Homo sapiens: one gene and its partners. The protein of the gene in region 1 purifies or fractionates together with the protein of each later gene. This does not show direct contact. Each region holds a gene or a part of one and is shown in the gene's direction. Other genes may lie near its edges.

The links.
Region 2: the proteins of LLPH (region 1) and PUM3 purify together in Homo sapiens (affinity purification with mass spectrometry; one large-scale study listed by BioGRID and IntAct). This does not show direct contact.
Region 3: the proteins of LLPH (region 1) and ZNF184 purify together in Homo sapiens (affinity purification with mass spectrometry; one large-scale study listed by BioGRID and IntAct). This does not show direct contact.
Region 4: the proteins of LLPH (region 1) and SRSF12 purify together in Homo sapiens (affinity purification with mass spectrometry; one large-scale study listed by BioGRID and IntAct). This does not show direct contact.
Region 5: the proteins of LLPH (region 1) and RBM19 purify together in Homo sapiens (affinity purification with mass spectrometry; one large-scale study listed by BioGRID and IntAct). This does not show direct contact.
Region 6: the proteins of LLPH (region 1) and HP1BP3 purify together in Homo sapiens (affinity purification with mass spectrometry; one large-scale study listed by BioGRID and IntAct). This does not show direct contact.
Region 7: the proteins of LLPH (region 1) and ZNF354A purify together in Homo sapiens (affinity purification with mass spectrometry; one large-scale study listed by BioGRID and IntAct). This does not show direct contact.

What each region holds. Positions count from the first base shown.
Region 1 is NC_000012.12:66,120,751-66,124,250, reverse strand, and holds part of LLPH (protein LLP homolog), read left to right. Parts: intron 1-232; coding exon 233-411; 3' UTR 412-3,500. UniProt on the Homo sapiens protein: In hippocampal neurons, regulates dendritic and spine growth and synaptic transmission.
Region 2 is NC_000009.12:2,809,596-2,813,095, reverse strand, and holds part of PUM3 (pumilio homolog 3), read left to right. Parts: intron 1-733; coding exon 734-876; intron 877-1,512; coding exon 1,513-1,735; intron 1,736-2,664; coding exon 2,665-2,752; intron 2,753-3,500. UniProt on the Homo sapiens protein: Inhibits the poly(ADP-ribosyl)ation activity of PARP1 and the degradation of PARP1 by CASP3 following genotoxic stress. Binds to double-stranded RNA or DNA without sequence specificity. Involved in development of the eye and of primordial germ cells.
Region 3 is NC_000006.12:27,450,247-27,453,176, reverse strand, and holds the end of ZNF184 (zinc finger protein 184), read left to right. Parts: coding exon 1-1,874; 3' UTR 1,875-2,430; downstream 2,431-2,930. UniProt on the Homo sapiens protein: May be involved in transcriptional regulation.
Region 4 is NC_000006.12:89,101,072-89,104,571, reverse strand, and holds part of SRSF12 (serine/arginine-rich splicing factor 12), read left to right. Parts: intron 1-3,500. UniProt on the Homo sapiens protein: Splicing factor that seems to antagonize SR proteins in pre-mRNA splicing regulation.
Region 5 is NC_000012.12:113,945,826-113,949,325, reverse strand, and holds part of RBM19 (probable RNA-binding protein 19), read left to right. Parts: intron 1-289; coding exon 290-493; intron 494-1,861; coding exon 1,862-1,992; intron 1,993-2,850; coding exon 2,851-2,972; intron 2,973-3,401; coding exon 3,402-3,498; intron 3,499-3,500. UniProt on the Homo sapiens protein: Plays a role in embryo pre-implantation development.
Region 6 is NC_000001.11:20,780,808-20,784,307, reverse strand, and holds part of HP1BP3 (heterochromatin protein 1-binding protein 3), read left to right. Parts: intron 1-3,500. UniProt on the Homo sapiens protein: Component of heterochromatin that maintains heterochromatin integrity during G1/S progression and regulates the duration of G1 phase to critically influence cell proliferative capacity.
Region 7 is NC_000005.10:178,720,660-178,724,159, reverse strand, and holds part of ZNF354A (zinc finger protein 354A), read left to right. Parts: intron 1-3,500.

The sequences.
Region 1 (3,500 bases):
CATATATCTACTAATGTACTAACTCAGAGCCATGCATCCTAAATGTTTCCTATTTAACATTACTATTCTAAGGAAGGACAGTCATGCCAACATTCTTTATAAAGTTTTTTTCTTCTCTATTTTCGGTCTACCTTCAGTTCTAATGTTCTGATGTTCTCAGTGCATTAATATGCTTTCACAGGGTGGTTTTTTTCATACATGGTGTTAATAGTTTTTCCATCTTTTTATGCAGATGACATGAAAATGGAGACTGATATTAAGAGAAACAAAAAGACTCTTCTAGACCAGCATGGACAGTACCCAATATGGATGAACCAAAGGCAAAGAAAAAGGCTGAAGGCAAAGCGAGAGAAAAGAAAGGGGAAAAGCAAAGCAAAAGCAGTGAAAGTGGCAAAGGGTTTGGCCTGGTAGACTCTTAAAACCTTGGAAAATGCCACATGGGATAGATGACGGATTAGAATGTATACACATGTATACTTTGATTTCAACTGCCACCAAATGAAAACCATTTGTTTTCCTATTTTAACTTGGCCTTTTTTCTTCAATTCAAACCCAGCATAACTCCTCAAGTTTGTTTTGGGAACTTGAATAAAATATTTTCTTTGATACATCCAAGCTCTACTGATACTTTAACTGGATGCTACCCAATATCCAGTTATAATCAGGCCTCAACGTTCTGTCAGGTATTAATATGGTTAGAATTGTTCTTACAACTGGTAATTATAGTCAATAGAGATAAAACAGATGATGTACTGACAAATTTTTGTGAACTTAGATTTTAAAGAAAGTTGTTGTATAATCATATCATTTAAAAATACTACATTAGGGCTGGGCATGGTGGCTCACACCTGTAATCCCAGCACTTTGGGAGGCCGAGGCAGGTGGATCACGAGGTCAGTTCGAGACTAGCCTGGCTAATACAGTGAAACCCCATCTCTACTAAAAATACAAAATTAGCCGGGCATGGGGGCGCGCACCTGTAGTTCCAGCTACTCGGGAGGCTGAGGCAGGATAATTGCTTGAACCCAGGAGATGGAGGTTGCAGTGAGCCAAGATTGCCCCACTGCACTCCACCCTGGGCAATGGAGTAGGACTCTGTCTCAAAAAAAAAAAAAATAATGGATCTTATAAAGTACTTGTGTGGAGCTTTGATTCCACAGAATAAAAGATATTTTGTGTGTAGATCTTCAAGTCTGATTTTTTTTTCTTTCATGTATGCTTAAGGTTTTTTAGTCCTAGAGAAGACCAGATTTCAATTAAATGTTTTCTTATCTTAATTTTAGGTAGAATATTAACATATACAAATCAGTATGCTTTTTAGGAAATTAGAACATTTCAGGTTTTTCATGGAAACTGATTTAATGTTCTTTAGTGTTAATATTGTGTGGCCTAATATAGTATCATGCAGCATTCCCCGGAGTGTGTTCTTCAGTATCAGTTTCCTCTGGATGCTTGGTTAAAAAAAATAAATTGTGTTCACATCGATTTGGGAAATGCTACATACTTGAAGATTTACAAAAGATTTTAGTTTAGGATTAGAATAGTCCTACAGGGTTCCAGCAGCAAAGAAACCTGTTTAGCGTCTACTCTTTGAAACTAGTTTTCTGAGAAATGATTTTTAGTTAAATCTGTCTTACTACAGTTTGCTAAATTCATTTTTATTTTACTTTTAGTTAAGCAATCTAAACTTAGCATTCCCTCTGAATTTCACTATAATCAGATTAACCATCTCATATGTTAACTGGAACAACCAAATACTTACTGAGTGCCTAGTATGTGGGCCAGGGACTTTCCAGATGCTTGGGACAGATTGAATAAGATAAGATTTCTGCTCTCATAGGGCTGAGAGCTGTGTATCTGTTTAGAAGAAGATGTTAACTTCCCAGGAGAACTCAAGTAAAATGTGAAATAGAATAAGGCCACTTGGTCATGAGGTCACAAACTTTGTGCCAGGCACACTGCTAAATTGGGGCACAATACATGGACATGTATTGTAATAAAGAGGACATGACCCAAATGTTTCAGAAAATTTAAGCTTATAAAATTTGATGCCAGTAAACTCTTGGAATTGTTTAAATATAGTAGACTTTTCTTATTTTTCTCAATAGTTTATTGAAAAGTTGGTAGATAACTTTAAATGCTTAAAATTTCTTAACAGCTAAGAAAGATATGAATTGAAAGATGTCATTCATGATCTTTGTTGCCTTTGGTGTAGGTATGAATAACACTAGCATTTGTGAGGGAAAAGTGAATATGTACATTTTTATTCATAAAATAAAAAAAATTGCAAACAACCAGTTAAGCCACTGACAATATCAGCCTAAATACAGTAGCTGAATTATTTATGTTTTTTTTTTTTTTTTTTTTGAGATGGGGTCTCACTCTGTCACCCAGGCTGGAGTGATTGGCACAAGTGTGGCTCCGCTGCAACCTCCACCTCCCAGGCTGAAGCGATTCTCCCACCTCAGCCTCCCCAGTAGCTGGGACTACAGGTGGGTGCCACCACGCCCAGCTAATTTTTGTATTTTTGTAGAGACAGGGTTTCGCCATGTTGCCCAGGCTGGTCTCAAACTCCTGGACTCAAGTAATCCACCTGCCCCAGCCTCCCAAAGTGGTGGGATTACATGCGTGAGCCACCACACCCGGCCTAATGTAGACATTTTTTATGATTTTTGGAAAAGGGGGCCAGGCACCAAATTCTAACAATTTGGGAGGCTGAGGCAGATGGATCACCTGAGGTCAGGAGTTTGAGACCAGCCTGACCAACATGGTGAAACCCTGTCTCTACTAAAAATACAAAGTTAGCTGGGCATGGTGGCAGGTGCCTGTAATCCCAGCTACTTGGGAGGCTGAGGAAGGAGAATCGCTTGAACCTGGGAGGCAGAGGTTGCAGTGAGTCAAGACCACACCATTGCACTCCAGCCTGAGCAAGAAGAGCGAAACTCCATCTCAAAAAAAAAAAAAAAAAAAGTCTACATTCGTGATATTACACAGTTGGCACTTATTTACATTTTGGCAGCATTGTCAGGTAGAGACCAATGCCAGGGTTATGTTCATGTTTTCTGTGGCTGATAACCTCTAATTTGATTCTGTTGATAGTAGCTTTGAGCTTTCATCCAGAGCCTCTCTGATGTTAGGATTTTCACTTCATTGTGTCCAGTCATGAAGTTTGTCCATTCAGGATTTAACTTGAAAGTTAACAAAATCAAAAATCAAAGCACCATTACCAGAAAACATATTTGGGAATCATGTTCTCAAGTGTCACATGGCCTCTGGAAAGGCGACTGCTGAAGAGAAGTTTACTGACACAGTGTTGTCAGTACCCTCTAAGGCACTGAGTTCCTGAACACTACCAGCAAGATTCTCCCCACCTCCAAATATTGGCAGGAAATTTAGACTAGCATTTCAAAATTAGTGCAGGGGTATGGTCACATCTTTGGCACTTTATTTTTAAAGATTACAAATCGAGAAGTATAGCATAGTCCTTTTATCTTTTAAAT
Region 2 (3,500 bases), on another chromosome or scaffold:
GTTTCCCCTCCTCTTCTGTTTTTGTTTTTCATTGCGGTAGCTAAACAGCCTTCATTTGCCATGAATAAGCAACCTAACTTTAAAAGCCTTTATCCACTTGTTCGATTTAACAGAGTTTCTTTATCTCCTTTCACATACATCTCAGCAGGGAAATTCTAATAGAAGTGTTCTTCATTCATGCCGGTGCTACATTTAAATGCAGCTGCAAGTTAACTGCCTCTACTCAGTGACCTCAGCAAGTGATGTCCCTAGTAATAGTGGCCCAAGAAATACTGGCCATAATGAATGAAGATAACACCTTTAAATATTTTTTAAGTCCTTGGGCTTGGTCAGTTAATACAAATGAGTTGTTCAGTAATGCTAGTCACAAAAGAGAATTGATTCTGTGTTCTAAATGTAAATCTCTGTGTGCTTTAATGACACAATTTCAGAACTAGCTCCACATTTTCCATGAAGTACGCTGGGAAAAATAGTAGTTAAGTATGTATTCTTCACCATTGAAATTCTAGGCATACTTTATTTTAAGAATGTAGATATCAATTCATTTTTTTGTTGTTGTTTATAATTTTATAGGACATTGTGCTCACTTTGGCAGCACATATACTATAATTTTATAGGAAATTATCAGTTCCTTGCTTAGCATAGTAAATGGCAAATATGGAAGAAAGGTCCTGTGGTACTTTGTTTTGAGAATGCAGATATTGATTCTTTTTTTTTGTTTATAATTTTATAGGAAATTATCAGTTCATTGCCTAGCATAGTAAATGACAAATATGGAAGGAAGGTCCTATTGTACTTACTAAGCCCCAGAGATCCTGCACATACAGTACGAGAAATCATTGAAGTTCTGCAAAAAGGAGATGGAAATGCACACAGGTAAAACCAAGTAGAATGGCTTGACTTCTTTATTCCTCTGTTAATGTTGAGTAGTGCATTCTTCCAGAAGTCCACTTACCCATCCATACCCTCTCTAAAACTGCTGAAAAGGTGAATTCCATTTTCAAGCCTATATTTTTGACAGATTCTAAAGTTTTTATCTTGACAAGGAAATAAAAGTGTCGTGCCAAAAGAACACCTGAGCACCTGGCACATAGTAGGCATTCAAGTGCGTGGTTTGGCTTTTATTTTGCTTTATTTTCAAAGCTACCGATACCACATATTTGAGTACCCTAGAGTATGGTGTCCATACAGCAGTGTAAATGTGTTGTTTTCTGGGTATGTTATTTGGTTTTTGGATTTTTTTTTTTTTTTTTTTGGTATTACACAAGTCAGACTCCCTTTATTGAGCCCTTGTTCTGTGCCAGGCACTATTCAGATCGTGGGACACAAACATTTTTAAAAACAGAACACATACTCGTATCACTTATTGTCTACATGCTTAACAGAAAGATAGACAATAATAATAGAGTGCGATACAGTCTGTGATAAGCTCTTAGAGGTTTTTGTGATAATATCACCACATTTCCTTTGCGATTTATCTTACCTTAATACCCCGTTCAACATACTCAACAGTAAGAAAGATACAGAGGTCCGCAGACGGGAGCTCCTAGAATCCATTTCTCCAGCTTTGTTAAGCTACCTGCAAGAACACGCCCAAGAAGTGGTGCTAGATAAGTCTGCGTGTGTGTTGGTGTCTGACATTCTGGGATCTGCCACTGGAGACGTTCAGCCTACCATGAATGCCATCGCCAGCTTGGCAGCAACAGGACTGCATCCTGGTGGCAAGGACGGAGAGGTAATGTGCCATTAAAGCACAGGCAGGAAAGCTGCAAAGGCCACAAAAACTTCGTTTTTGGACGATGTGGGGTGTCAGTAAGAAAGCTGGGGAGGGAGATACCTGTTGAATAAACAACCAAGAACCTCTCACAGCAGCAATTACATTCATCTTTAATTTTCTCTAACCATCTGGGTCAAAGCCTGGTACTTGGGAATGTTTTACAGATGTGAATTTGCTTATGAATGAAATCATTGCCAAGTATTGAGTGCCCAAGGTGCTTCTGACACCTGCGATTGGGGAAGAGAAGTGGGCCATGGATCTTAGAGAAGCCCTGGCTCCTGACCATATTAACAAATGGGAAAGATGAATGTACCTTGAAAGTTTCTCTATAAGGAGACTGAGCCGGTTGCCTCCCATACTTGCTAAGGAGTAGCCCAAATAACTGGGAACGCTTGGTATTGCTCTTGAAGAGGAGTAAGGTTGAGCTGAAAAGATGCTTTCTTGATTCGCTCATCAGATAATCCCCTTCGGTGGTCATGTGTACTTAAACAGCATGCAGCATTGGGTTTTGATGTTTGTGCTATAGTGTTCTGTCCTGTAGGTTTATTTGTGTCTGAGAATGACATATTTCAATCCAAGACGTGATTAGCATTAAGATGAGCCTTGTGCTGCTACTGTTCAGAGCAGATTAAATGAAGCGGAGACTGAAGCGCTGTGCCGTGGCTGTGTTATCTGGCATAACTGTCTTTCAGTCTGGGGATCAGAATAGATCTGTGGTCCCCCCAAGTATGATGGTTGTCCTAGATAAAGACCTCTTAAGCCTGTGGAACTTTAAAAGTGGCTGAGTCCTTATCTGTATGTGGTGGCATAAATAGTATGTATTCATTCAAATGTATTTGTATGAATGAAAACAACTTTTAAAATTAACTGTTCTTGACCCTTCATAGCTTCACATTGCAGAACATCCTGCAGGACATCTAGTTCTGAAGTGGTTAATAGAGCAAGATAAAAAGATGAAAGAAAATGGGAGAGAAGGTAGGCTATGAAATTTGACCTTTTCTTGTATCTCATGTGGAATTCCAGTAATTCCTGGCATCCCTGAACTTTATACCAGCCATTTAAGCTCAAATGAAGTTTGCCAAGTGTCTAGAAATGGTGTCTGTGAATAAGAAATGATTCAGTGGTTGCTGGTAATGCTTTTTCCCCTAGAAATATTTGTGCCTGAGAACTCTTTTAATTTTCTTTTTTCCAAACCCCCCCCGCCAGCCCCCCCCACCGCCCCCTCACTCTCTCTGTTTTCCTTCCTGTGCTGCTGCAGGCTTCTAACCTGGCTTGGTCAATGCCTTAAAATGCCATTCTAATGAGGATGGTGAGAGGGGGTAGGGGGCCCCAATTGTTGAGTATCATTACCTCAGTAGAAAGGCATGACATTTATCTCTATGTTTGAAGAAAGAATAAGCAGAAGAAGATTATCCTCGTAAGAGAGTTTTGGACTAGTGCCTGTTTATTTGGCATTGAAATACATGTGACCAAAGAGTAAGCCAGTCTTTGGCGCTTTCTGGTTTTTTGTAAGCCTTACAGCTGCTCTGTAGAAACTCAGCTCTCTAGAGAAGGACAGCATTAGCATTTGCATGCCATTCCCCTCTCAGTCCTATCTCCAACCAGACCTTCACTTACAAAATCCAAATTCCATCTGGTATTTAAACCACTGGAGAGATTTTTTTCCCCTACTGAGTTAAAACAGTTTGGGCTTTTCATTACAATGTCTGGAAAAAAGTGACAG
Region 3 (2,930 bases), on another chromosome or scaffold:
AAAAACACAAAAGAGATGATTCTTGGAGTTCCAACTTGCTAGAAAGTTGGGAATATGAAGGCAGTTTAGAGAGACAGCAGGCAAACCAACAGACACTGCCAAAGGAAATAAAGGTAACCGAAAAGACAATACCCAGTTGGGAAAAAGGCCCTGTAAATAATGAATTTGGGAAAAGTGTCAATGTGAGTTCAAACCTTGTAACACAAGAACCATCTCCAGAAGAGACCTCTACTAAAAGAAGCATCAAACAGAATTCAAACCCAGTTAAAAAAGAGAAATCTTGTAAGTGCAATGAATGTGGGAAAGCCTTTAGTTATTGTTCAGCTCTTATTCGCCATCAGAGAACACATACTGGAGAAAAACCCTACAAATGTAATGAATGTGAAAAAGCCTTCAGCCGGAGTGAAAACCTTATAAACCATCAAAGAATTCATACTGGAGATAAACCATATAAATGTGATCAGTGTGGAAAAGGCTTCATTGAGGGTCCATCTCTTACTCAACATCAAAGAATTCATACTGGAGAAAAACCATATAAATGTGATGAATGTGGGAAAGCCTTTAGTCAGAGGACCCATCTTGTTCAGCATCAGAGAATTCATACTGGCGAGAAGCCATACACTTGTAATGAGTGTGGAAAAGCCTTTAGCCAGAGAGGCCACTTTATGGAACATCAGAAAATTCATACGGGAGAAAAACCTTTTAAATGTGATGAATGTGATAAAACCTTCACCAGGAGCACACACCTTACTCAACATCAAAAAATTCATACTGGAGAAAAAACCTATAAATGTAATGAATGTGGAAAGGCCTTCAACGGGCCCTCAACTTTTATCCGTCATCATATGATTCATACTGGTGAAAAACCGTACGAATGCAATGAATGTGGGAAAGCCTTCAGCCAGCACTCAAACCTCACTCAGCATCAAAAAACTCATACTGGGGAGAAACCCTATGATTGTGCAGAATGTGGAAAATCTTTTAGTTACTGGTCATCCCTTGCTCAACACCTGAAAATTCATACTGGAGAAAAACCTTACAAATGCAATGAATGTGGAAAGGCCTTCAGTTACTGCTCATCCCTTACTCAACATCGGAGAATTCACACGAGAGAAAAGCCCTTTGAATGCAGTGAATGTGGAAAGGCTTTCAGTTATCTCTCAAACCTTAATCAGCATCAGAAAACTCATACTCAAGAGAAAGCTTATGAATGTAAAGAATGTGGGAAAGCTTTTATTCGGAGTTCATCTCTTGCTAAGCATGAAAGAATTCATACTGGAGAGAAACCCTATCAGTGTCATGAATGTGGGAAAACCTTCAGTTATGGTTCATCCCTTATTCAGCATAGGAAGATCCATACTGGAGAACGACCTTACAAGTGTAATGAGTGTGGGAGAGCATTCAACCAGAACATACACCTTACACAGCATAAGAGAATTCATACAGGAGCCAAGCCTTATGAGTGTGCTGAGTGTGGTAAAGCCTTTCGACATTGTTCATCTCTTGCTCAACATCAAAAAACTCACACAGAAGAAAAACCCTACCAGTGTAATAAATGTGAAAAGACCTTTAGCCAGAGCTCCCATCTAACTCAGCATCAACGAATTCACACTGGGGAGAAGCCCTATAAGTGCAATGAATGTGACAAAGCCTTTAGCCGGAGCACTCATCTGACTGAACATCAGAATACTCATACTGGAGAGAAACCTTATAACTGTAATGAATGCAGAAAGACTTTTAGCCAGAGCACATATCTCATTCAGCACCAGAGAATTCATTCAGGAGAGAAGCCTTTTGGATGTAATGATTGTGGAAAATCCTTCAGATATCGCTCTGCTCTCAACAAACATCAGAGACTGCATCCTGGCATATGACAATTCTAGGAACATCATAAATTTAGGGGAGATATTTACTTTAGTTTGTCCTTTTGTTAAGTACTGAAGAATCAGAGTGGATTTAGAAACTGCCTTGAAATCTTTTAAATTTTCACTATCATGTTATGGAATGGAAAGTACATTGGGCTGAACTAATCCAATTGTTATTAAGCCACTCTGTGACATTAGAAAACTCTACTGTTTTAAGCTTTAGTTTCCTTTATGGAATGAAGGATTTGGAGTAGATTATTTCAAAGGTAGTTTGGAGTTTTATAATCAGTTTTGTATATTTACAATATTTTCTTGAATGGGTTTACTATACATCAGCATTTTGCTGTGTTGCATCTAGAATGTGTATGTTTATGCATGTTTTGCCAATAGAATTTGTGCTTCAGTAACTAGATCGGGGATCTAGTATGCTCCTGGTCTAATGCATTTACATTGTTTAGGTAACTGGTTCCTAATAAAAAGAATTATAAAATACCCTCAAATTAACAATTCAATTGCATATAATAGCCTAACTCAGTAAGAATATTAAAACTTACTATTATTCTTCTTCTAGTCTGTTTTTAATATTCTAGGAGTTTACCACAACTATAGAATTCCACTTCTACAACTTAAACTGGTGTTATTTTACCCTGGTTGCATATTGGAGTCACCTGGTGTCTTAATTTGTGCTGTTATGTTAAATTACAATAGACTAGGTATCTTAAACAATAGAAATTTGTTTAAAGCTGGAAGAGGCTGGGAAGTCCAAGATCAAGGTACTAGCAGATCCAGTGTCAGATGAAGGCCCATTTCCGTTTGCAGACACCTCTCTTCTTCTTGTGTTCCTACATGGTGCTAAGCAGAGACAGAGCAACCTCTCATATCTCTTTATAAGACTACTAATCCCATTGGTGAGGGCTCTACCCTTATGACCTAATCACCTCCCAAAGGCCCCCCTCCTAATACCATCACATTGCAGATTAGGCTTTCAACATAGAAATTTGGAGAGAACATATTAAGTCCATAACACCTGGAGAACCCTATAAAATTATCTTGCCAAGGCCCTAC
Region 4 (3,500 bases), on another chromosome or scaffold:
TGAGCAGAAAAAAAAAGTAAAAAAAAATACATACTCAGCCGCGTGCAGTGGCTCACACTTATGATCCCAGCACTTTGAGAGGCTGAGGTGGGCAGATCTCGAGGTCAGGAGTTCAAGACCAAACTGACCAACATGATGAAACCCCGCCTCTACTAAAAATACAAAAATTAGCTGGGTGTGGTAGCCACGCACCTGTAATCCCAGCTACTCAGGAGGTTGAGGCAGGAGAATCACTTGAACCTGGGAGGCGGAGGTTGCAGTGAGCTGAGATCACGCCATTGCACTCCAGCCTGAGCGACAGAGCGAGACTCCGTCTCAAAACAAAAAGCAAAAAAAAAAAAAAAAAAAGGTGATGAGTTTTAGATAAATAAAATTTTCCTAAATGTGCCCAACAGTTTGTAATCTTCAACTTTAAAAATGTTTAAATGTGTAAGAAATACAATAAAATGTCCAGGTGCCATAATCTCAGCACTTTGGGAGGCTGAGGTGGGAGTATCACTTGAGGCCAGGAGTTTGAGACTAGCCTGGCCAACATGGTGAGACTCCGTCTCTCCAAAAAAAAAAAAAAAAAAAAAAAAAAGAAATATAATAAAATCCCTTGTGAAAGGTGGTTGACTAAAGTTAATGTAAATCAATTTACTTATAAAAGATAAGTTATCAAGAATAAATTCCAAGTATGGCAGTATTGAAGAAGACATATTAAATAGTAATTTGGGGGCAGGGGAAAAGATATTTTCAAGTTATTTATTTTGCTAGCCAGGAGTTTATTTCTATTAGAATAATAGTGAATCACAACAGAAATTAATTATATGGACCAGGTGCAGTGGCTCACGCCTGTAATCCCAGCACTTTGGGAGGCCAAGGCGGGTGGATTACTTGAGGTCAGGAGTTCAAGACCATCCTGAGCAATATGGTGAAATCCTGTCTCTACTAAAAATTCAGGCCAGGCGCAGTGGCTTACGCCTGTAATCCCAGCACTTTGGGAGGCCAGGGCGGGGGCGGATCACCTGAGGTCAGGAGTTCGAGACCAGTCTGGCCAACATGGCGAAACCCCGTGTCTACTAAAAATACAAAAATTAGGTGGGTGTGGTGGCACAGGCCTGTAATCCCAGCTACTTGGGAGGCTGAGGCAGGAGAATCGCTTGAACCTGGGAGGCAGAGGTTGCAGTGAGCTGAGATCACGCCACTGCTCTCCAGCCTGGGTGACAAAGCGAGACTCTGTCTCAAAAAAAAAAAAAAAGAATTTAAATTGATTGTTTCTAAATGCATTACAGCCTTAGTGAACCAGTTTTTTTCTCTTGCTTGATTTAAATAAGGTGGATATTCACATCATTTTCTGCCTTCTAGTGGAAGTAAAGTATAATACTTGACTGTCTCAAATCATCCTGGAGTATCAGGGATGGAAGGACCACATCTTTCAGGGCAATGCTATTCTGCTTTGTACTTGTTATAAGACCATTGCTTAACCTCCCTGACACCAGTTTTTCTCATTTTAAAAACTGTCTTATGGCCAGGTGCAGTGGCTCACACCTGTGATCCCAGCACTCTGGGAGGCCAGGGTGAGATCACTTGAGTCCAGGAATTTGAGAGACCAGCCTGGGCAACATAGTGAGACCCCCATGTCTACAAAAACTAAAAAAAATTAGCCACGTGTGGTGGCACACACCTGTTCCAGCTACTGGGAGGGAGGGAGAGGGTGGACTGAGGTGTGAGGACTCCTTGAGCCCAGTAGGTCAAGGCTGCAGTGAGCCATGATTGCACCACTGCACTCCAACCTGGGCAACAGAGGAAGACTCTGTCTCACAACAAATAAATAAATAAATTATTAAAATGTAAAAAAAGGTATTCTGTAAATCTTTGTTAACTTTATATCAAGGAATGTGTATGTTAGAACTCTAAATGTTCCTGAACAGTGTTAAAATTGCTCCTCAACTCCCTTTTCTTTAGTCCAAATATATTATAGCGTCCTTCTTTTACTATGTTAGGATTTTTTTTCAAGGACATTTTCTTCATTTTGCTTCCTACAGCTGTCTACAAAATGAATGAAATTTAATAATTTCTAAAAGACTGTGAATTTATTCCAGAATATATTCTACATCAATGTATTTTCAGTATAAATATATAATAAAAAATTCAAGAGAGGCCAGGTGCAGTGGCTCATGCCTGTCATCTCAGCACTTTGGGAGGCTGAGGCAGGTGACTTGAGGTCAGACATGCCTGGCCAACATGGCGAAACCCCATCTCTACTAAAAATACAAAAATTAGCCAGGTATGGTGGCACGTGCCTGTAATCCCAGCTACTTGGGAGGTTGAGGCAGGAGAATCGCTTGAACCCGGGAGACAGAGGTTGCAGTGAGCCAAGCTCGCCCCACTGCACTCCAGCCTGAGTGACAGAGCAAGACTCTGTCTCAGAAACAAACAAACAAAACCAAAAATTGAAGAGGCTCTACATGGTGTTATCATTCTCCAAAGAAAGCTTTTTAAATTTCTTCATCTAGTTCAATGTTACTATCTAGTATCATTTTTCTTCAGTCTAAAGAATATTTAGTATTTCTTTTTTTCCTCTTTCAGCTCACCGAGAAGTACCAGGGCAGTGAATATTTAGTATTTCTTATAGTACACATCTGCTGATAGTGAATTATCTCAGCTTTTGTCTGAAAACATCTTTATTTAAAATTCATTTGTGAGAAATATTTTTGCTGAGGATAGAATTCTATATTGGCAGTGATTTTATTTTTCTCTTTAAAAATGTCATTCCATTGTTTTTCTGATACCCATAGTGAGTTGTCAGTCTTGTGGTTGCTCCTTTGAAAGAAATTTGTCTTTCATTCTCTGGCAAGGTTTTCAGATTTATTTTTATTTTTATTTTTTTTTGAGACAGAGTCTCACTCTGTCACCTGGGCTGGAGTGCAGTGGCACAATCTCGGCTCACTACAACCTCCGCCTCCCAGATTCAAGCGATTCTCCTGCCTCAGCCTCCCGCCACCACACCCAGCTAATTTTTGTATTTTTAGTAGAGGCGGAGTTTCTCCATGTTGGCCAGGCTGGTCTGGAACTCCTGACCTCAGGTGATCCACCTGCCTCAGCCTCCCAAAGTGCTGGGATGACAGGCATGAGCCACCGCACCCGGCCGGTTTTCAGATTTTTTCTTTGACTTTGGTTTTCATCAGTTTCACTGTGATGTGCCCAGTGTAGTTTTCTTTGCCTATGTGGGGTTTATTGAGCTTTTTGAAATTGTGAGTTAATGCTTTTTGTTAGTTTTGTAAAATTCTATGCTATTATCTCTTCAAATATTGCTTCTGCCTTATTCAGTCTTTCCTCTGGCTTGTGTGACTGTATGCTATACATCTGCTGTGTTCTTTTAGGGATTTCTTAAAATTCCTTTTCTCACACTGTATTTCGGTAGGATGTTTTTCTAATGATCTTTTAGTTAACTATTTCTTTTCTTTTTTTTTTTTTTTTGTCTTGGAGGTTTTCTCTTGTTGCCCAGGTTGGGGTGC
Region 5 (3,500 bases), about 48 Mb from region 1:
GAATACAGCCCGGAGTTTAGAGAATGCATCACCGTGGTCTGGGATAACTCAGGCAGGCTCCCTCCAGGGCTGAAGCTGAACTGGCAGGGTGAGTGAGATTTGGGTTCAGGCCTGGTGTTGGCTTGGCTTATGCTGCCGCCTCAGGTGACAGGGCAGGTGTTGGGTGCTGTCATCTGCCACCTTGATTGTGTTTTTTGGAAGGCAGCAGAGAAGAGTTTGGAGTCACCAGCAAGGAGTTGCTGGCAAGTTCTAGGCCTCCCCCTGGAGCCCTGACTCCTCTTCATTGCAGGTGGGCGCTACATCGAGGTGTTCAGGGAAAAGAACGTCCCCACCACCAAGGGTGCACCAAAGAATACCACCAAATCCTGGCAAGGCCGGATACTCGGGGAGAACGAAGAGGAGGAGGACCTGGCCGAATCCGGAAGGCTCTTTGTACGGAACCTGCCCTACACCAGCACCGAGGAGGATCTGGAGAAGCTCTTCTCCAAATATGGTAGGGGTGTGGCCTCCGGGCCGTGGATAGCCCAGCGGCTATGGGAGCCGGGCTCTCACTCTGACGTCCTGGGTTCAAGTCCCAGTGTGCACACGACTCCACATCTCTTGCCTCAGTTTTCTCATCTGTAAAATGGGACCAAGTACCCCTGAGCTGCTGTGAGGATTCAGTGACATGATGAATGCAGGGATTCGCAGGGCAGGAAGTAAAAGGTATTAATAGCATCACTGGCATCCTTTGCTGTCTGAACTCTCTAACTTCTCCAAATTCAGAATTGAAGCAATTCGGATGACTTTTTTGAGATACTCCCTTGCTGTCCAAAGTCATGCCACTCGGTATTGGAATTGAGTAACTGTACAGGTTTCACCTGATGAATATACCTACACGGCGTTCCTCCGTATCTGAACTCTTAATTATGTAAAGTCTTCTTATCCAAGCTGAGCACCAAATAGATTTGATAGTGTCAAGGTTAGTGTTGTTGTTGCTGTTATTTCTCAGGCCATGGGCTTGAGGGCCTGTAGTCCAGCTTGGTCACAACAGGCTGTGTTTGTTTGTGGAGTTACCATTGTTGAAGGGCAGGAAGGGAGGGTTCAGGATGAGGGGAGGTCTTGATACCTTTGAGATCCCCGCAGTGTCTCCCCATGTCTATTCAGAGGCCAGCTGTAGGTTGTGGAGGATTGGAGATGTAGGTTGAACACCTGATGTGGGCCCCGTTGTCAGGGTAAGGATGCCCTGAGTGGAGCATGCCATCAGGAAAATTGACCTGACCTCCAAGCCTGGGGCCTGCCCCAGTGGAACTGTGTGTTCCATTCACCAGTCTGCTCACCATATCCTTCACACAGGCTGGCATCCCGGCTTACACCTCATGGGTGGGCTGAGGGGGAGAAGCATTTGTCGATATATTGCAAATGTCCATTTGGGAAGGAAAGACCCAGAGAGGGGACGCGGTCACACCCTGGCATTCAGAGTTGAAACCAATGCAGAAAGGGTGTGCTTTAATTTGAGCATGATGCTAATATCATCATGGAAGACACTTCTTTGGCACTAACTCTAGCAGGCACTGTTTAGTGCACTATGCACGCATGAACGCATTTAGCCCATGAGCTAGGTACTGTTGTGCTGTTTTACAGATGAAAAGACTGAGGCATGGGGAGGCTTAGTGATTTGCTCAAGGCAAGCTTCATGTGTAATAGGTGGTGGTGCTGGGCTCCAGCCCAGGTATTGTTGCTGTTAGGATAGACACACGTAGGGGACTGGGAAATGACACCCATGACCTGTGAGGTTGGCTCACAGCTGGTGCTCACCACATTCTTCCCTGGGGCCAAGTGGCTGCGGCCTACCAGAGACCGACACTTCTCCTGTCCTCAGGTCCCCTGTCTGAGCTCCACTACCCCATCGACAGCCTGACCAAGAAACCCAAGGGTTTTGCATTCATCACCTTCATGTTCCCTGAGCACGCTGTGAAGGCCTACTCGGAGGTGGACGGGCAGGTATTCCAGGTGAGGCCCCGTCCTGGGCTGGCCAGGAGGCTGTGGGGCTCACATGGTCGGGAAAGGCTGGTGTGTGTGTGTGTGTATGTGTGTGGACACGGGCGTCCACTTTGTGGGCCTAAGAAAATGTGCAATGGCATGCTAAGTCACTGCCTCACTCAAGCCACTGGAGAGTAAGAAGTCGTGTGAGGGCACGGTCTGATCTGTTCTGGTCACTGATCTGTGGCACCTACACCTCTGTCTGGCACTTAGCAGGCACTGAAAAAATACTCCTTGAATGGATGAATTTGCTCTCCATCTCTATAGATACCACCTTAGAAGAGGAGTAAGAAGAAAAGAATTTTGACAGGGACCTATTAAAATGGCCACAGTGGAATAAAAGAAACTTCTCTTTTCCCAGTGTTACCAAGTAATATACTTAGCATACATCCTCAAGCCCCAGGCTGCCTCATCATCACCCTTTTTCCTTTTCTCATTCATTCATTGATTTATTCATGATTTCTTGATCCCCTTGTTGCCATCAGGCCAGACCTGGCCCCACCGGCATGGACCTCACATTCTTACTCACTGGTGCAGGGACAGGATGCGATGCAGGCTTGAGAGGCGGGGAGAGGGCTGCGGGTGCGGGGTTATACACTGATCGAAGTTTTGTGTGTGTAGCTGTGTCAGGTGGCCCCCTCACGACATCAGGATCCTGTGTCAGGTGGGAAGAGAGTGGCCACGTTCTACCTGACCTCCCTCCCACCCTCTGGTCAGGGTTTCAGTGCTGGGTCCAGCTTACTCGTGGCAGAAGCCAACATCCTTCGGCAGGAAGCAGGGCTTACAGGCAAGGCTTCTGTTTACTCCCTTCCCGTCATTCCCATCCAGGGCAGGATGCTCCACGTGTTACCATCTACCATCAAGAAGGAAGCCAGCGAGGATGCCAGTGCCCTGGGATCGTCGTCCTACAAGAAGAAGAAGGAGGCCCAGGACAAAGCCAACAGTGCCAGGTCCTCAGTGCCCCTGAAACCACTGAGCTCCAACCCCAACCCTCTGCCACCCTCACCCTGCCCTTTCTAAGCCACCTGGGTCTTCTGACTCCTGATGGGTTTAGTTCATACCTTACCGAGCTTCAGTTTTCTCATCTGTAAAATGGGAGAATAATAGTAGTGCCTTACTTTTATGGTGCTGTAAGGTTTAAATGAGTGAATGTATGTGAAGTTCTTAGTCCCTGACACAGATGAAGCACTGTTAGGGATGGTTCCTGTCATCATCCGTCTTGTTGTCTTCAGGCCCTGTATACGTAGCCCATGATAGGGAAATTGGGGGCATGTAGATAGGCAGGCCTAGGAGCCCATTTCTTACAGGATTCGTGTCTGAGAACGAGTTCCCCTCATCCAGCTGCGGTCTGATCTCCCTGTTCTGCCTCTGCCTCTTAGCTCTCACAACTGGAACACACTATTCATGGGGCCGAATGCCGTGGCCGATGCCATCGCACAGAAGTACAACGCCACCAAGAGTCAAGTGTTTGACCACGT
Region 6 (3,500 bases), on another chromosome or scaffold:
GAGTGCAATAGTAAAAAGTTTAGTTAATAGGTACACTGGGTCAGATGCAGTGGCTTACACCTGTAATCCCAACACGTTGAGAGGCCGAGGCAGATGGATCGCTTGAGCCCAGGAGTTTGTGACCAGCCTGGGCAACATGGCAAAACCCTGTTGATACAAAAAAGAGAAAAATTAGCCGGGCATGGCGGTGCGTGCCTGTAGTCCCAGCTACTAGGGAGACTAAGGTGGGAGAGTCGCTTGAGCCTGGGAGGTTGAGGCTGCAGTGAGCTGTGATACTACAACCTGAGCATCAGAGTGAGACCGTGTCTTAAAACAAACAAACAAAAAACATAGGTACAGTGATGTTAAGGCAGTGTGAATTAACGTTGCATATACTTAGCTCTGTAATGAACAGTGAGTTTATTAAATAGCCAATTAACCCAACTATTCTAAAGCAGGTACTACAGATTGAAGCTTTGAAGTTCTATGACTTTGACTTTTATTAAGGAAATGCAGAGCTGAGGCTAACATCTCTTTTTTTTTTTTTTTTTTTTTTTTTGAGACAGAGTCTCACACTGTTACCCAGGCTGGAGTGCAGTGGCATGATCTCGGCTCACTGCAACTTCGGATTCCCGGGTTCAAGTGATTCTCCTGCCTGAGCCTCCCGAGTAGCTGGGACTAACCCAACTATTCTAAAGAAAGTACTACAGATTGAACCTTTGAAGTTCTACAGCTTTTACTAAGGAAATGCAGAGCTCTAACATCTCTATTTTTTTTGTTTTTTTTTTAAATTGTTGTTGTTTGTTTTTTGAGATGGAGTCTCACTCTTCACCCAGGCTTGGAGTGCAGTGGCATGATCTCAGGTCACTGCAACCTCCGCCTCCCAGGTTCAAGTGATTCTTCTCCCTCAGCCTCCTGAGTAGCTGAGACTACAGGTGTACACCACAGCGCCTGGCTAACTTTTGTGTTTTTAGTAGAGATGGGGTTTCACCATGTTGGCCAGGCTGGTCTCGGACTCCTGACCTCAGGTGATCCCTGCCTCAGCCTACCAAAGTGCTGGGATTACAGGCATGAGCCACTGTACCCAGCCCTAACGTCTCTTAATATTTATCCCAAATAACTGGGTTTTAAGTGTTCTTCACACATAATGAATGTAGTCATAAGTACTACCAGATGTCTTTGTTCATTCAACTTTTATTATTATTATTATTATTATTGAGCCAAGGTCTTACTCTGTCACCCAGACTGGAGTGCCGTGGTGCAATTCTAGCTCACTGTAGCCTGGAACTCCTGGACACTGGCAGTCCTCCCATCTCAGTCTTCCAAGTAGCTGGGACTACGGGCATGTGCCACAGTGACCAGCTAATTTTTTATCTTTTGTGTGTGTGGGTTTTTTCTTTCTTTTTTTTTTTTTTTTTTTCTTTTTTTTGAGAAGGAGTCTTGCTCTGTCGCCCAGGCTGGAGTGCAGTGGCACAATCTCGGCTCACTGCAATCTCCGCCTCCCAGGTTCAAGTGATTCTTCTGCCTCAGCCTCCCAAGTATCTGGGATTACAGGCGCGCACCACCACACCCGGCTAATTTTTGTATTTTTAGTAGAGACGGGGTTTCACCATACTGGCCAGGCTGGTCTCGAACTCCTGACCTTGTGATCTATCCGCCTCGGCCTCCCAAAGTGCTGAGATACAGGCGTGAGCCACCATGCCTGGCCCTTTTGTGTTTTTTTTTAAATTATTATTTTTTTTTCTTGAGGCAGGCTCTGCTCTGTCACCTAGGCTGGAATGCAGTGGCTCGATTTCAGGTTACTGCATCCAAAACCTTCTGGGCTCAAGCAGTCCTCCCAGTCTCAGCTTCCCAAGTAGCTGGGACTACAGGCGCATGCCACCATTCCCAGCTGATTTTTAATTTTTTTTTTTTAGAGACAACGTCTGTATTGCCCAGGCTGGTCTTGAACTCCTGGGCTCGAGTGAACCTCCTACCTTAGCCTCCCAAAGTGCTGGGATTACAGGTGTGAGCCACCACACCTGGCCTGTTTTTAAATTTTAATTTATTTACTTTTGGTAAAGACCAAGTCTAATGTTGACTAGGCTAGTTTTGAATTTCTAGCTTCAAGGGATCCTCCCACCTCTGCCTCCCAAAGTGCTGGGGTTGCAGGCATGAGCTACTACACCAAATGGGAAAGTATTTTTTTAAAGATGCCTATGAACGGAGACTCCTGAAGGTTGTTGACTTCACGGTAGCATTTTCAGCCTAGCTAGTGTTATCGTGGGTTAAGAAAGATAAATTCATTAGCAATATAACTTTACTAAGGATAACCTGATTGTGATATTGTTTTATTTCCATATCATATTTGCATGTAAAAATACCAGCAGATTTGCATAAGGCTTTTTATCATTAAGAAAAATGGGCCGGGTGCGGTGGGTCACGCCTGCCATCCCAGCACTTTGGGAGGCTGAGGCGGGCAGATCATCTGAGATCAGGAGCTCGAGACCAGCCTGACCAACATGGTGAAACCCCATCTCTACTAAAAATACAAAATTAGCTGGGCATGGTGGCGCATGCCTGTAATCCCAGCTACTCAGGAAGGTGAGGCAGGAGAATCGCTTGAACCAAGGAGGCGGAGGTTGCAGCGAGCTGAGATCGTGCCACCGCACTCCAGCCTGGGCAACAGAGCAAGACTCCGTCTCAAAAAAAGAAAAAAAAAATTTAATATTAATGGATATTCTGGTTCCCTAAGTATGAGTGTGTTACACTGCACTGAATTCTTTCAGCTGACTGAAAGATTTCCTTGCAGCTGACTGACAATTGACAAGTCTGGTATTGTTCTTGGTGTTCCCATAAAAATATTTTCCCGATAAGTGTGAATGCATCCTCTTTGTTTCAATCTTCCGGATTTATCCTAGTTGTTGTAGGTTGGGACTGTTACTTGCCAAGTTGAAAGCTCTTCAATTCTTAGACAAGGTTAGACCTTAATGTAGAAGTTGCATGACTGTCATTCCCTACTCATTGTTAATAGTTCATTAGCACAGAGATCTAGATACTTAAGTGGTCTTTTTTTTTTATATTGAGGAATTTTTGTATAAAATGTCATTGAGTCTCAGATGAGATTTTTGGGGAAGAGGGGGTGTTAGTGATCAGGTAAACTTGGGTGACTGCATGGGTTTTTATCTTTGAATATTTAATTATATTCTTCTGTACTAGTTTTCCTTACATTAAAAATATGACAGTCTTAGAAGCATACTTTTATTCTCCTAGGTGATGGTCTAAATTTGCTTCTGTGGGTCTGGAAGCTATTAGAATGTCATGTTATTCAGCAGTATTTTTCCCCTTGTGTTTTCCCTTAATAGAAGGAAAAAAAAAGTACTTTAATAGAGATAGAGTTTAAGATTACAGTTAATTTTCCTGACTCTTTCGAGAACAGTAACAACAAAAGCCTTCTCTTGGTAAACTGATCTTTGACTAACTGTTCCTTAGTCTCTTTATTCTATCCTTCTAAGTTCCTGATGGTGGCAGGAGGGGATGGG
Region 7 (3,500 bases), on another chromosome or scaffold:
CACTTGCCGTGAGTTCGTGAGGGAGGAGGCGGCGCCCACGTGATCAGGGTACAGGAGCAGTTGGGTGTGGGATGGATTTCACTTGAGATGTGAGTGAAGTCGTCAGGTGGGGAACCCTGGTGGGCAGGTGTGTAAGTGACAGGGCCGAGACTCAAGGGAGGTCAGGGAGCCCATTAGCATGATGGGCATTAGAAGCTTGGAGCTGGCCAGGTGAGGGGGCCAAGTGGAGGCCCGAATTTCAGGAAACAGCATTTGCGAGGTGCTTAAGCAGGAGGAATCTGACAGAGCCCGAGAAGTAATCAGAGTAGAGAAACGGGGAGGGGCCATCGTGGCAGTGGGGGACTGAGAGTGGTTGAACTGGGGGGGCTCTGGCTCTGGGGGATCAAGGTTGAACCCTCGCCCACAGCTTTGTATAGCATTGGGCAGAAAGGGACACAGGTCTCCTGCTTCTGGAGTGCACGATCTAGTGGGGGACAAGGTGAACACACTCATTGCACACAAGGCACAGAAGGACACATTCCAGTGAGGACCACGTGGGAAAGACACTCGGTGCTGTGAGAGTGCAGAGCAGGCAGGTGGCGTCAGCAAAGGCTTCCCTGTGGAAGGGCCTGGGATCAAAGGACTGAAGAATTGCTCAGGCCTAAAGAAAGGTGTTCATGAAGGTCCAGAGAAGCAAAGCCAGCGAGGAGAAGGTGGAGCACCCGAGAGAGAGCCACGGGCCCTGTCACAGGGTTTGGTTGGTGCTTGAGAGCCAGGCACAGGTTCTGAGGAGCCGTAAGTAGCCCAGGGCAGGCCTAGGCTGCTTTCTGCAGCCGCCAGCCCATGTGGAGAACCTGACGGCCACAGTGCAGGGCTTGTCAGGTCCAGAGGGCTCAGTGATGGCCCCTTATGCCATGGGCCCAGCAAGGAGCTGCAGGGCAGGCAGCCTCGGTCCCCACAGCCCCTGTGCTGGGGAGAGCTTTCTCCTCCCTGAAGAAAGGTGAGATTTTTTTATATGGGAACCACACTTGTTTATCTTTTTAACTCTCCTTTGGGAGAAATACACTACGTGGTCTGGCCCTGGCTACCTCTTCACTCTCAGCTCCTTCCACTCTGCCCTTCATTCGAGGCCTCTGATCACCCTTGGCCGCCCTGCAGTGTGTCATGGGGGGCGCCAAGCAGGCCCCCACTCAGGGCCTCTGCCCTGCTTTTTCTGTCTGGGACTGTTCTTCGTGGCGGTCATGCGTCCATGTGGCTCGCTCACTTCCTTGTGCTGCACAGGCTTCGGCTCACACAGGCACAGATCATCTGACACGCAGCCCTGCAGCCCCCACGCCATCTCCTCACCGTGCTTTATTTTCCCTCCTCGTGCTTAGCGCTGTGTAATAGATCTGTTTCTTCATGATCTGTCTCTGCCTCTGCATTGTAAGCTGCTGTGGGAGGGGTTGCCTGTTTCATTCACTCCTGTTTTCCAAGAACCTAAAACAGTCCCTGGCCAGGGTATGCGTCCAGTTGTATAATGAATGCACGAGTGACTTGGACTAGGTTAGTGGTGTTGGAGACAGAAAGAAGTGAACCAGTCCCAGGGATGTCCAGGAGATACAGCCAGCAGGACTGTTAGACATGGAAGATAGAGGAGATGGGGTAACAAAGAAAATAAAAGCAAACAAAAGGGAGATGGGGTTGTCAGGGATGCTTGCTTGGTTTCTGGTTTGTTCTGTGACGGTTGGTGATGTCATTCAGTGAGATAGGAACACTAGAAGGAGATCAGATTTGGAGATGATGTAAATTTGGTTTTAGATTAATTGAGCTGTTTTTGGTTGACCTAGTTATCCCAGTGGCGATGACAAGTAGTGTTGATTTCGGAGTACAGTACCTCAAAATGTAGACTGAGCTTGAAATGTAAATTTGGGAGAACCTGATCAATATAGGGTGATTGAAATAATGGGAGAGGATGAGTTGGCCTAGGGAGAGTGTTCACATTACAGTAAGAGTAAGAAAGAGCCTAAGACTGAATCTTGAGGAACTCCAGCATTTCAGGAAGCCAGGCAGAGAGAAATGAACCCATAGGGAAGACAGGTAAAAGCGTACTGTAAGGAAAATCAGGAGAGGCAGGTGACATTGGAGGCAAGGCTCATGATGGAATGGTAGCAGTAGATGGGGAAAAGTAGACGAATGTGAGGCAGATTTAGATGGCAGAATAAACAGGTCTTGGTAATTGATTAGATGAGGGGGCTGAGGGAGGGAGAATTATTAAGGATAACTCTTAAGGTTTTGATTCAGAGGTGGTGCCATTTACAGAGACAAGGGGTTGACCAGGTCGGAGGGAAGAATCGTGAGTGTGGTTTTAGGTGTGTTGACTTTGAGGCATCTGAACTGCTCTTTTGAGTAGGTCGTCTGTAAGGGGGAGTCGAGTATGGGAGATATCTTGCTTAGAGGATGAGTCTATGATTGAAGTTGCCTGTGGAAAGATGCAGAGTGAGAAGAACTGGGGGCCTAGAACTAAAGCTAAGGCACTCCAAGGATGATAAACTGTGGTACGTCCACACAGCTGTAAAGTGGAATGAGGAGGACCTCTGTAACTTCTACTATGGAGTGATCTCCAGAATGTGAGAATAAGTGCAGAACAGCACAGTTAGTACTGTTATCTAAGAAAGGTGGGTGGGAATACCAAGAAAAGTGTGTGTGTATTTACTTACACTGTCATGGAGCACATAATGTTTCAGTCAATGATAGCCTACATATATGATGATGCTCCCATAGATGATAATACTGCATTTTTCCTGTCCCTTTTCTATGTTTTAATATGTTGAGATGCACAAATACTTACAATTGTGTTACAGTAGCCTACAGTATTCAGCTAAGTAACATGCTGTATAGGGGTATAGCCTAGGTGTGTAGTAGCCTATACCATCTAGATTTGTGTAACACACTCTGATGACTGCACAACATCGCCAACAACGCGTATCTCAGAACATATCCCAGTCATTAAGCAGTGCAATTATTTTTTTTAGAAAGATAAAAGCAAAAGAAAAAAAAGGAGATCAATAAAAATGGTTATCTCTAAGGTGAAGGAAGAAAAAGGATGGAACAGGGGTAGAATCTATGACTTTTTGAGGTCTCAAAATTTTGACTTCAGAACTATAAAAATGGTTTATAAAATTATAAGACAAAATTAAACAAAAATGAGAAAGTACCCCCTACATATTGAAAGCAGAATGAAACAACCCTAATTGTGTTCCAGGTTGGTGGCTTAGCCACAAAAAGAATTATTTGAATTGCCTTTACATTGCAGCAGTTTGACTTATTAGTGTAGGTATTCTAGGGGCAAAAGTAACTGCAAGCAGTGGTGTTAATTTTGATGGATGTGCTAAGAGCGGTTTTGATGTTTTTACAGATGAAATGATTTTGCTGTCTGGGATGTGCTCTAGCATAACCTAGTGGACGAGATGAAAGGGTTTGTGTTAGTTTGCTAGGGCTCCATACTGAAGTACCACAAGCTTCGTGGCTTAAAACAGTAG